3 separate regions of the Homo sapiens genome follow, and all the other regions are reported to be linked to region 2. The links are microRNA targets in miRTarBase. Many come from high-throughput screens and were not tested one by one. Region 2 holds a microRNA gene; each other region holds the end of a gene's coding sequence.
Evidence for each region. The annotated mature microRNA hsa-miR-518f-5p reads CUCUAGAGGGAAGCACUUUCUC and lies in region 2 at 1,781-1,802, shown strand. An mRNA with a match to its seed (bases 2 to 7 or 8) in the 3' UTR can be bound and repressed. Matches are read on the target gene's strand: a 7mer-m8 pairs with bases 2 to 8, a 7mer-A1 pairs with bases 2 to 7 and ends in A, and an 8mer does both.

Region 1: miRTarBase lists PPP1R12A as a target of hsa-miR-518f-5p. Seed matches in the 3' UTR shown: 7mer-A1 at 552-558.
Region 3: miRTarBase lists SV2C as a target of hsa-miR-518f-5p. The part of its 3' UTR that is shown has no 7-base or 8-base seed match.

The regions. Positions count from the first base shown.
Region 1 is chr12:79,773,201-79,776,347 of GRCh38, reverse strand. PPP1R12A (protein phosphatase 1 regulatory subunit 12A) reads left to right here. Exons shown (of 25, transcript NM_002480.3): 25 at 333-2,780. The coding sequence ends at 419. All of the region lies in intron 5 of PPP1R12A-AS2 (PPP1R12A antisense RNA 2), which reads right to left. Among named protein-coding and RNA genes, the nearest start is that of PAWR, 84 kb to the right of the region's middle.
Region 2 is chr19:53,698,250-53,701,396 of GRCh38, forward strand. It overlaps MIR518F (microRNA 518f), which reads left to right and starts at 1,766; the gene lies at 1,766-1,852. It overlaps MIR523 (microRNA 523), which reads left to right and starts at 136; the gene lies at 136-222. It overlaps MIR520B (microRNA 520b), which reads left to right and starts at 2,978; the gene lies at 2,978-3,038. It overlaps LOC107985346 (a long non-coding RNA gene), which reads left to right and starts at 2,421. Exons shown (of 5, transcript XR_001753998.1): 1 at 2,421-2,457.
Region 3 is chr5:76,324,908-76,328,054 of GRCh38, forward strand. It overlaps SV2C (synaptic vesicle glycoprotein 2C), which reads left to right. Exons shown (of 13, transcript NM_014979.4): 13 at 457-3,147. The coding sequence ends at 640. Among named protein-coding and RNA genes, the nearest start is that of SV2C-AS2, 15 kb to the left of the region's middle. RefSeq lists an enhancer at 525-1,024.

The sequences.
Region 1 (3,147 bases), not on the chromosome of region 2:
TTTTAAGAGCCTATCCTAACAAAAACAGGCTTGTCTTGGCTGCTGGAATGTGGTGTGCTTGTGAGTCATAAAATCAAGTGATTTAGTAAATTTCAATGGAAAATTTGGAGAGAATAAACCTTTCATTCCAGCATTTATGAAACTAATTAGCTTTACAAATCCAGGTGTGGTTTTTTTCCTTCTTCCTGATACATGTTTTAGATACTAGAAATATATATAACTGACAAAGCTTGATCATGTGTTTTGTGGTGAAAATATAACATTTATTAAGAATAATGTTTTATCTTTTAATATTGAAGGTAAAACTTGATCTTCAATTTTTCTCTTTATAGATGTTACCAGACCTAAAAGCAGACAACCAGAGGCTAAAGGATGAAAATGGGGCCTTGATCAGAGTTATAAGCAAACTTTCCAAATAAAAAAAAAAAAAGCAGCAAGTAATGGAATTGCACATATTAGTAACCCAGTGGACCATAATTGGCAGTCACTGGAAGTCTGGGAAGAATCCTTGGAGACTGTCATTTTCGGATATCCTGCCAAATGCCCTCTTATCTAGAATTTTTGTTTCATTTTGTTTAATTTTCTGGGGTGTTTTTGTTGTTGTTGGTTTGTTTTTTGTTTTTTTTTTTTAATCAAGACCATTGTTTCATGTTAATGCAGCTGCTGAGAAGATTTTTTTTTAATGACTGAGAAAACTTGTTTACAGCTCCAGCATATAAGGAAAGTGTTCAAGGCCAGATATGCCTCAGATATTTAACCAGTAAGCCTTAGTTGTACATAAATACTTTTGTGTCAACAAAAACTTTCAGCTCTCACAGAAGACAGTTACTCAACATTTTTTGATGTGCCACAGTTTCGAGTTTTTCGATATTTAAATTTTTTGGCTTTTCATCTAAGTTTGGGTTTGTATTTTTTCCTTCTAAACTCTTCATGTGGCAGAGTCTTCTATGTTTTCACAGCTTTTTCATTACAGAAAAGAACACTTGCTCTTCTGTGATTATTGTCATGTATTAGGCTAATGCTGTGTTGTCTCCCACCTGGAACTGAATTGCTTGGTGGAACATATGCTTTCACTGTTTGTGCAATATGCATTTATTTCTTATATGAATGCTTTAAAGTCATTTGAGGTTAGATCTTTTAATTCCTATTTTCTGCTTCATTGGTCACTTTTTTTTTATTGTAGTATAAGATGTTAGATTCTGTAATCTTCACATTCATTTTAGCAGGTACTGAGTGATGCTGTATATACAAATAAGTGTATTGTTTTGATTTTTAGACCACCACATGGCATGCTTGACTATTTCTTATTTCAAATGTCTGCTAATGCAGAGTAGGCTACTCCATGATAGTGTTAAAAAACAAAATTTGCTAACAATGTGATATAAAGACTTTAAAAGTTACACATTATGTGGAGCCCTATCTTTACAAAAGTTTCCTACTGTAAAGTGCTTTTATTTTCAGTTTTCACTTGATAGTACTCAACCATAATTAAAGTTGCATAAGATAATTGCTTTACATTTCACATACCTATATTTATCTGAGTGCTGTCTAAAACTGTTGTGCTAGCCAAAGTAATGCTATGAAATCATTTGCAGAATTAACCCGTGAGTTAATGTTAAATGCACTGTTATTGCCATGTGAAGAGGCATCGACTTTGATACCACCATCATGTTCAGACCATTTTATACATTTCAGTGGCCTTTTTTTTTTTTTAAGGAAAAAAAAGCGCAAAACCAAGTACATAGTGACGATGGCTTTTATTTGGACAAATAGCTTTTATATTTTCATTAAACCATGCAAAAAATACTACATCTTTCTGGCACATAACTGTCTCCTTAACCACTGAACAGTTCAGCCATTTGAATAAATTGTACATTGTAAAGCTTATAGTAGCTGATTGTATTATTGATTGTATTGTATACTATATTAAATGTGAATTTGTACCCCTTCATTTTAAAAGGTCATTGTGTTCTACTGCCTATTTTAGATTACTTTGGGGTTGGGGAAGGGTGTTTTGGTAAGCAGGATTTTAAGTCCTCTCTCTCTCGATTGGTTTTATGAAGATATAAGGTTATGCTCTTACTACCAAGCTCAGGATTCTTGATTTTAAAGGTACAAGGATAGTTGTGGGAGTTTTATTTTTGGTTATATTTGAACTGTATGAATGGTAGGTCTGAATATTGAGAATTTCCATGGTCTTATGTGGAGGTAAAATATACAGATAACTGATCAGTTTGAGTGACTGCAACATGTTCTGGTTGCACAACAGTTAGGCATGCTATGGTTTATATTTGTGAAGTTTGGATGCCTGTGAAGAATGATTAAATACATGTTTCTAATATTTTAGTGTTTTGTATTTAGGTTATTTATTCTTTGTATCTAAAACTGAACAGCTACTGTGCTATATTGATTTTATTGGTAGTATTGAGCAGACCTTGTTTCTGCATGAAACTAGTTGCAAAACCCACTATTTTGGAAATAAAAATGTATTTTGACATATACAAATAAAATGAATAAAACTATTTTAAATGTGTGAACTTTTAATGAAGACATTTTAAATTTTGTTCTGAGATATTTAAATTCTGCATGGGTATTTTTTCACTAATTGCTTTACTTGGATACCAATTTGAATAATTTCTGAAATTGTAATATTGTGATAATTTGCACAGCATTGTACATGCACATCTGTAAATGCAATCTTAATTGCCATATTTATGCAATCTGTGTACCAATTTGGACAAATGTTTATATATTTTACATAAAGCTGTCTGTATGCAGAATCTGAGAACTAGTTTTTTTATGATAATAAGTGGGTAAAAATTAATAACAGTGAGTTTCAGGGTAGTTGCTTTGTAGCACAAGATTTCGCTTCCATAAACATTGTTTTTTTTTTTTTTCTTAAAGTAAACCTGTGCTTTTTCTTATCTGCAAACATAGGCTTAGCGATACATATAAAGGTAATATTCCATTGAAACATACAGTTTACTTTAATATTAGATCATTTTCCAATTTAGATTTGTCCAAGGTTCGACCTGCTAACACATCTATAAATAAGAGGCACTTTTAGCCAGGCATGGTTGGGAGGCCCAGGCGGGAGGATCACCTGAGGTCAGGGGTTTGAGACCAGCCTGGCCAACAGGGCGAAAC
Region 2 (3,147 bases):
TCCTTTCAGGGGTTTATATTCTGGATTCCAGAAAACATGCAAACAGGGCCAGTAAATGCATCTTTATTTTTGTGTTCATTTTAACCTGGTCAAGGAAAATTGCTACAAAAAACCCAGGGTGCTGGAGCAAGAAGATCTCATGCTGTGACCCTCTAGAGGGAAGCGCTTTCTGTTGTCTGAAAGAAAAGAACGCGCTTCCCTATAGAGGGTTACCCTTTGAGAAAAGCAGCATTGAAGTTGATGCTGATCTTGCTAATACATTTGCAGAGCATGCTTATCATCAGACTTGGATGAAGGTGGGGTTCTGTTTTTTTTTTTTTTCTAAGACAGGATCTCTGTTGCCCAGGCTGGAATGTGGTGGCACTTCCAACCTAGCTCTCTTGGGCTCAAATGGTCCTCTCTTTTGGGATAGAGTCTTACTCTGTGACCCAGGCTGGAGTGCAGTGGCGTGATCTCAGCTTACTGCCACCTCCACCTCCCAGTTTCAAGCCGTTCTCCTGCCTCAGATTCCTGAGTATCTGGGATTATAGGTACCTGACACCACGCCTGGCTAATACTTGCATTTTTCTTTCTTTTTTCTTTTCTTTTTTTTTTTTTTTTTTTTGAGATGGAGTCTTACTCTGTCACCAGGCTGGAGTGCAGTGGTGCGATCTTCGCTTATTTCAACCTCCGCCTCCCAGTTTCAAGTGATTCTCCTGCCTCAGCCACCCGACTAACTAGGATTTCAGGCATGCACCACACGCCTGGCTAATTTTTTGTATTTTTAGTAGAGACAGGGTTTCACCATGTTGGTCAGGCTGGTCTCGAACTCCCGACCTCTGGTGATCTTCCCGCCTTGGCCTCCGAAAGTGCTGGGATTGCAGGCATTAGCCACCCCGCCCGGCCATTATATATTCTTATATATATAATACCATATACGTGCAAAATACTCTTCTACATGAAGAGAATACTCTTATATCACTTTGGGGTTTTTTTTGTTTGTTTGTGTGTGTGTGAGTGTATGTTTTATTTGTTTTTGGATAAGGTCTGGCTCTGTCACCCAGTCTAGAGTGCAGTTGTGCCATCTCTCTCAGCTCACTGCGACTTCTACCTCCCACCTAAGCCTGCTGAATTAGTGTCTACAGGCATGCACCACCACACCTGGCTCCGTTTTGTATTTTTTATACACATGGGCTTACACCATGTTGCCGAGACTGGTCTCGAACACCTGAGCTCAGGTGATACTTCAGTTTCAGCCTCCTAATGTGCTGGGATTAGAGGTGTGAGCCACCGTGCCCCACTTGTAGTTGTGTGTTTCTGTTCAAATTTTATTGAGGAGTTTTTAGGGCCTAGCCTGTGATCTACCCTGGAGGATGTTTGTGTGTACAACAATGTATATTCTTTAACATCGTAGATTCCATTTTGGATGCTCCCATCGGGACTGTGTGTCCCTGTGCTGGAACTCTGGTGAACACCTGGCTCAATATCCATTTCTCTTCTCTAGAAATCCAGCCCAGTTCTCTTGGTTAAATATAAGGTACATATGTCTATGAGGCATTGCTTTTGCTCTTTGAGAACAAAACTCAGGAGGATTGCTCTTTGATGAACAAAGCTAACCTGCTGATCCTTTGAAGCAAGGAACTGGAGATGGTCCTTTTAGGGGTTTATATTCTGGATTCCAGAAAACATGCAAACAGGGCCAATAAATGCATCTTTGTTTTTGTGTCCATTTTAACCGGGTGAAGGAAAATTCCAACAAAAAACCCAGAGTGTTGGAGCAAGAAGATCTCATGCTGTGACCCTCTAGAGGGAAGCACTTTCTCTTGTCTAAAAGAAAAGAAAGCGCTTCTCTTTAGAGGATTACTCTTTGAGAAAAGCAACGTTGAAGTTGATGCTTATCTTGGTAATAAATTTGCAGAGAATGCTTATAATCAGACGTGGATGATGTTGGTGTTTCATGTTTGTTTTGTTTTGTTTTTAATACAGGGTGTCTGTTGCCCAGGCTGGAGTGTGGTGGTCCCTCTCCAACCTAGATCTCTTGGGTTCAAGTGGCCCTCTTTTTTGGGTCAGAGTCTTGCTCTGTGGCCCTGGCTGGAGTGCAGTGTCAGGATCTCTGCTCACTACAACCTCTGCCTCCTGGGTAAAAGCGATTCTCCTGCCTCAGCCTCCCAAGCAACTGGGATTACAGGCATGTGCTACCATGCCCGGCTAATTTTTGTAATTTCCTTTATTTATTTTTGAGACAGAGTCTTACTCTTTCGCCCAGGCTGGAGTGCAGTGGTGCAATCTCGGCTCACTGCAACCTCCAACTCCCACCTCAGCCTCCTGAATAGCTGTCTACAGGCATGCACCACCACACCTGGCTAACTTTTGTATTTTTTGTACAGACATGGTTTCTCCATGTTGCCTGGGCTGGTCTTGAACTCCTGAACTCAAGTGATCCTCCCACCTCGGCCTCCTAAAGTGCTGTGATTAGAGGTATGAGCCACCGTGCCCCACCTGTACTTGTGTGTTTCTGCTCAAATTTTATTGGGGAGCTTTTATGGTATAGCCTGTGGTCTCTCTGGAGAATGTTTGTGTCTATGACAATGTATATTCTTCAGTATGTTATGTTCCATTTTGGATGCTTGCATGGGGACTGTGTGTCCCTGTACTGAAACTCAGGTGAACACTTGGCTCTCCGTCCATTGCTGTTCTCTAGAAATCCAGCCCAGTTCCCTTGGTTAAAGATAAGGTATGTCTAGCAGGTATTGCTCTTTCTCTTGCAGACAAAACTCAGGAGGATTGCCCCTTGATAAACAAGGCTAACCTGCTGATTCTTTGAAGGAAGGAACTGGAGATTGTCCTTTTAGGGGTTTATATTCTGGATTCCAGAAAACACACAAATAGAAAACAGGGCAAATAAATGCATCTTTCTTTTCGAGTCCATTTTAACCTGGTTAAGGAAGATTCCAACAAAAAATCCACGGTGCCACAGCAAGAAGATGTCAGGCTGTGTCCCTCTACAGGGAAGCGCTTTCTGTTGTCTGAAAGAAAAGAAAGTGCTTCCTTTTAGAGGGTTACCGTTTAAGAAAAGCAACGTTTAGGTGGATGCTGATCTTGGCAATAATACATTTGCAGAGCATGCTTATCATCAGAGTTGGATGATGGTGGGGTTCTGTTTTTTTG
Region 3 (3,147 bases), not on the chromosome of region 2:
AGCTACTCAGGAGGCTGAGGTGGGAAGATTGCTTGAGCCCAGGAGTTTGAGGCTGCAGTGAACTATTACTATGCCACTGCACTCCAGCCTGGGCAACCGAGCAAGACCTAATCTCTATAAAAATGAAAAAGACCCTTCCTTCCAACAACGTTAAACCACTAGAGATGTTTCGTACTCCCTACAATTTTTTCTCTCTTTCTGTTCACAATACATTGGGACTTACAGGCAGAGTAAGAGTCAATGGAAGCTATGGTAAGAAAGTCAACAGAGGGCTGGAGGAACAATACCAACAGCTAGGATTCTCTACTCCCAGATTTGCTAACAAGCATTGATTTGCTCCACTGATATACAACACAATCTGAGGGAAGATCATTGAAAATCTAGGATCTTTTGGTCTAAAGTTGGAATCATGGGGAGGCATTTTCTCAACCTTGTTCATGTCTCTTTCCTTTGCAGGGCAACAGGCTTTGGCTTCTTAAATGCGCTATGCAAGGCAGCAGCCGTCCTGGGAAACTTAATATTTGGCTCTCTGGTCAGCATCACCAAATCAATCCCCATCCTGCTGGCTTCTACTGTGCTCGTGTGTGGAGGACTCGTTGGGCTGTGCCTGCCTGACACACGAACCCAGGTTCTGATGTAATGGGAAAAAAAGCCATCCTTCCTGCGTTTCTTCCTCCTGCCCTGGGTCAATTCTCCTTCCTGACTCAAGGCTTCAGAGTTTTCCTATATAGAAAGGTGATCAAGTATCAGAACATAAACACGTGCTGTGACTTAAAATTTAGAAGCATATCATCTTGCCCCTTTGTGATTTTGCACAGGTTGTTTGTTTGTTTTGTTTTGTTTGAATGCATTGTTATCTTTCCAAACTGTGATGCTACTGCCTCCCGCAAATCAGTGGAAGCATTTCTAAAATGCCCTAGGCAGCCAGGCTTCCCTGGGGTTCTGCTCATTGAAAGTTTAGAAGCTAAGAAGACTGGGCTGGTGTAAGAAATAGATCCTGCTCCTAATTTAACATTAACAGGAAATATAAGTCGGCACATTATTGCATTTGTGCTGAGAAGAGGGATTCTTTTTTTTTTTTTTTCTAACAGAGTGATATTTCCTGTTTACTTAGAAAAGGACACCCAGTAATTCTCACTGTTATAGCAGAGCCTTTCAAAGAAAACCATGTGGCACCAAACAGGGCTGGGTGGGGCTCTTTGGGGCAAGACAATTAAGGTGACCGCTGACAAGAAAAATAAAAGCTCTGCAATTAGCAGCAAAAATCTGAGTGTGCTGCATAAGCAAGATTTCTGTCAGAAAGCCCAATTAAACCTCTGAAAAGTGTGAGGAAAAAGAACTGTAACAGTATCTGTGACTGTGGCATGTGGTTCAGAATGTTTGAAAATCAGAGATCCGAGAGAGAGCTTCTGCCTCCATTTACCACTCCCACTCCTTCAGCTGCCCTTGGTCTTGCCAGACAGCAGATTCAGGGAAAGAAAGCTGCTTCTTAAAAACTGTCTGCCTACCTGATTCTGCCACTTACCCACACTGTCTCTAGTCTAGAGATTGCCAGTGGATAGCTAAATTGTAAATTGCAAATTAGGAAGAAATTCACACCCAGAGCCATTTGGAAATACAAAATGGTACCTCTTTCCAGTACCTCTTTGCTGTGGGACTGGCCCGCCAGGACCCCCACCCCACCTGGCCCGCAGTTGACATTCAGCTTCCCAGCTGGCATCAGCAAAGAGGGTTTGTCCCTCTAGCTTCCCCAGGGCTGGCCCACTGCTCAATGCGCTCCTGGCTCCCTGTAAAATCACAGCCCGCCTGCACTCCTGAGGGCCCCTCTCACAGACAGACCATCTCCCTGTGGTTGTTTGACTGCTCATTTTACCTCTGGAATCTGCCTGGGCTTGGAAGAAAGAGGTCAGCCAGGACATTCCCACGGGCCCGCTGTCAGCTACATGACCTTCTCGCCTCTCAGGCTCCCCTTCCCCCAGGCTCGTCCTTTTTACACCTCTTCTTTGAAATCTGAACCTTCCTTGTAGACTTGCAGCCAATGACCAGAAGCCAGGAATAAATCCCATATTTAAACAATATTCCTTTTTTAACTGCCTCGATAGAGGTTTATTCTTGTTACTTATTATAGGCATTTTCAGGCAAGCCATAGCTTGGGGCCTCCAGGAAGGGAAAGCTTTTGTTTCCACTGATCATTATTTTCAGAGATGTCCTAACTCCCCTGAGGCCCCCCTGCCTCCCCCTCCCCTTCCTAATGATCCCTCGCAGAGCTCAGACTAAGTGAAAAGCTTCTTTCATTAACATAAGCCATTAATCGACTTCCCCTTGAAGTAATTCAGGTCTGCAGAGGGGGGAAGACTGGTGTTGGGGGCAGTGGGAAGAGGGTGGTTCCCTGGGGGTCTGTGATCAGGGCTAGAACATCAGGAAAACCCGAACCAAAAACTGCAAAGGTGGCAGGAAGAAGAAAAATCACTGAAGGCTAGACAAGATGCATTTGAAAGATACCAACCGCACAGGGAAAGAAACAACTTTCTCTCACTTCTGCCTCCTATCATTTTATTGGAGAACAAAGACAGCAGTCAAACAACCCAAGAAAGTACCCTGTATGTTTTTCTTCTTCCACATGTACCCATTTTCCCACCTATCTCTCCCTGATTTGTCTTCTTTAAAAAGACATTTGGGGACCTGAGCAGGTCTTTTAGTTGAATGCAGCATGTGCAGAAATAACTGCAAAAGCCAGGAGTGCATCTCCATCAACCCATCAAAAGAAAAATAGAAATGTACATGGGCATCGCTGTCTCTAGTCCTCTGTGATAGTTCACTTTGCTAACTAGACTACCTTTACTTTTCAAAATATCTCTAATGTCTGCTCTGGGGTCTAAATGCATAAAACATCTCCCAAGCTGCAGAGCACAGTTATTCAGAATTTTATTTGAACACTGGGTTGGGTCAGCATAGGATAAACCAGCAAAACCTTACTTCATGAGACCTGCCATCCGTGTCCCCTGCAGAAGGACCGTTCTTGGCCTACTTGTTACCTAATCCAAGCATCCTTGGTGGCCTAAGAGGGATCTTTTCTCATCTCCTGGACAGTCTGTGGTCACAAACCTTCTTGGTCACCACCTCTCCCACCTTTTGTGCACTCTTCCC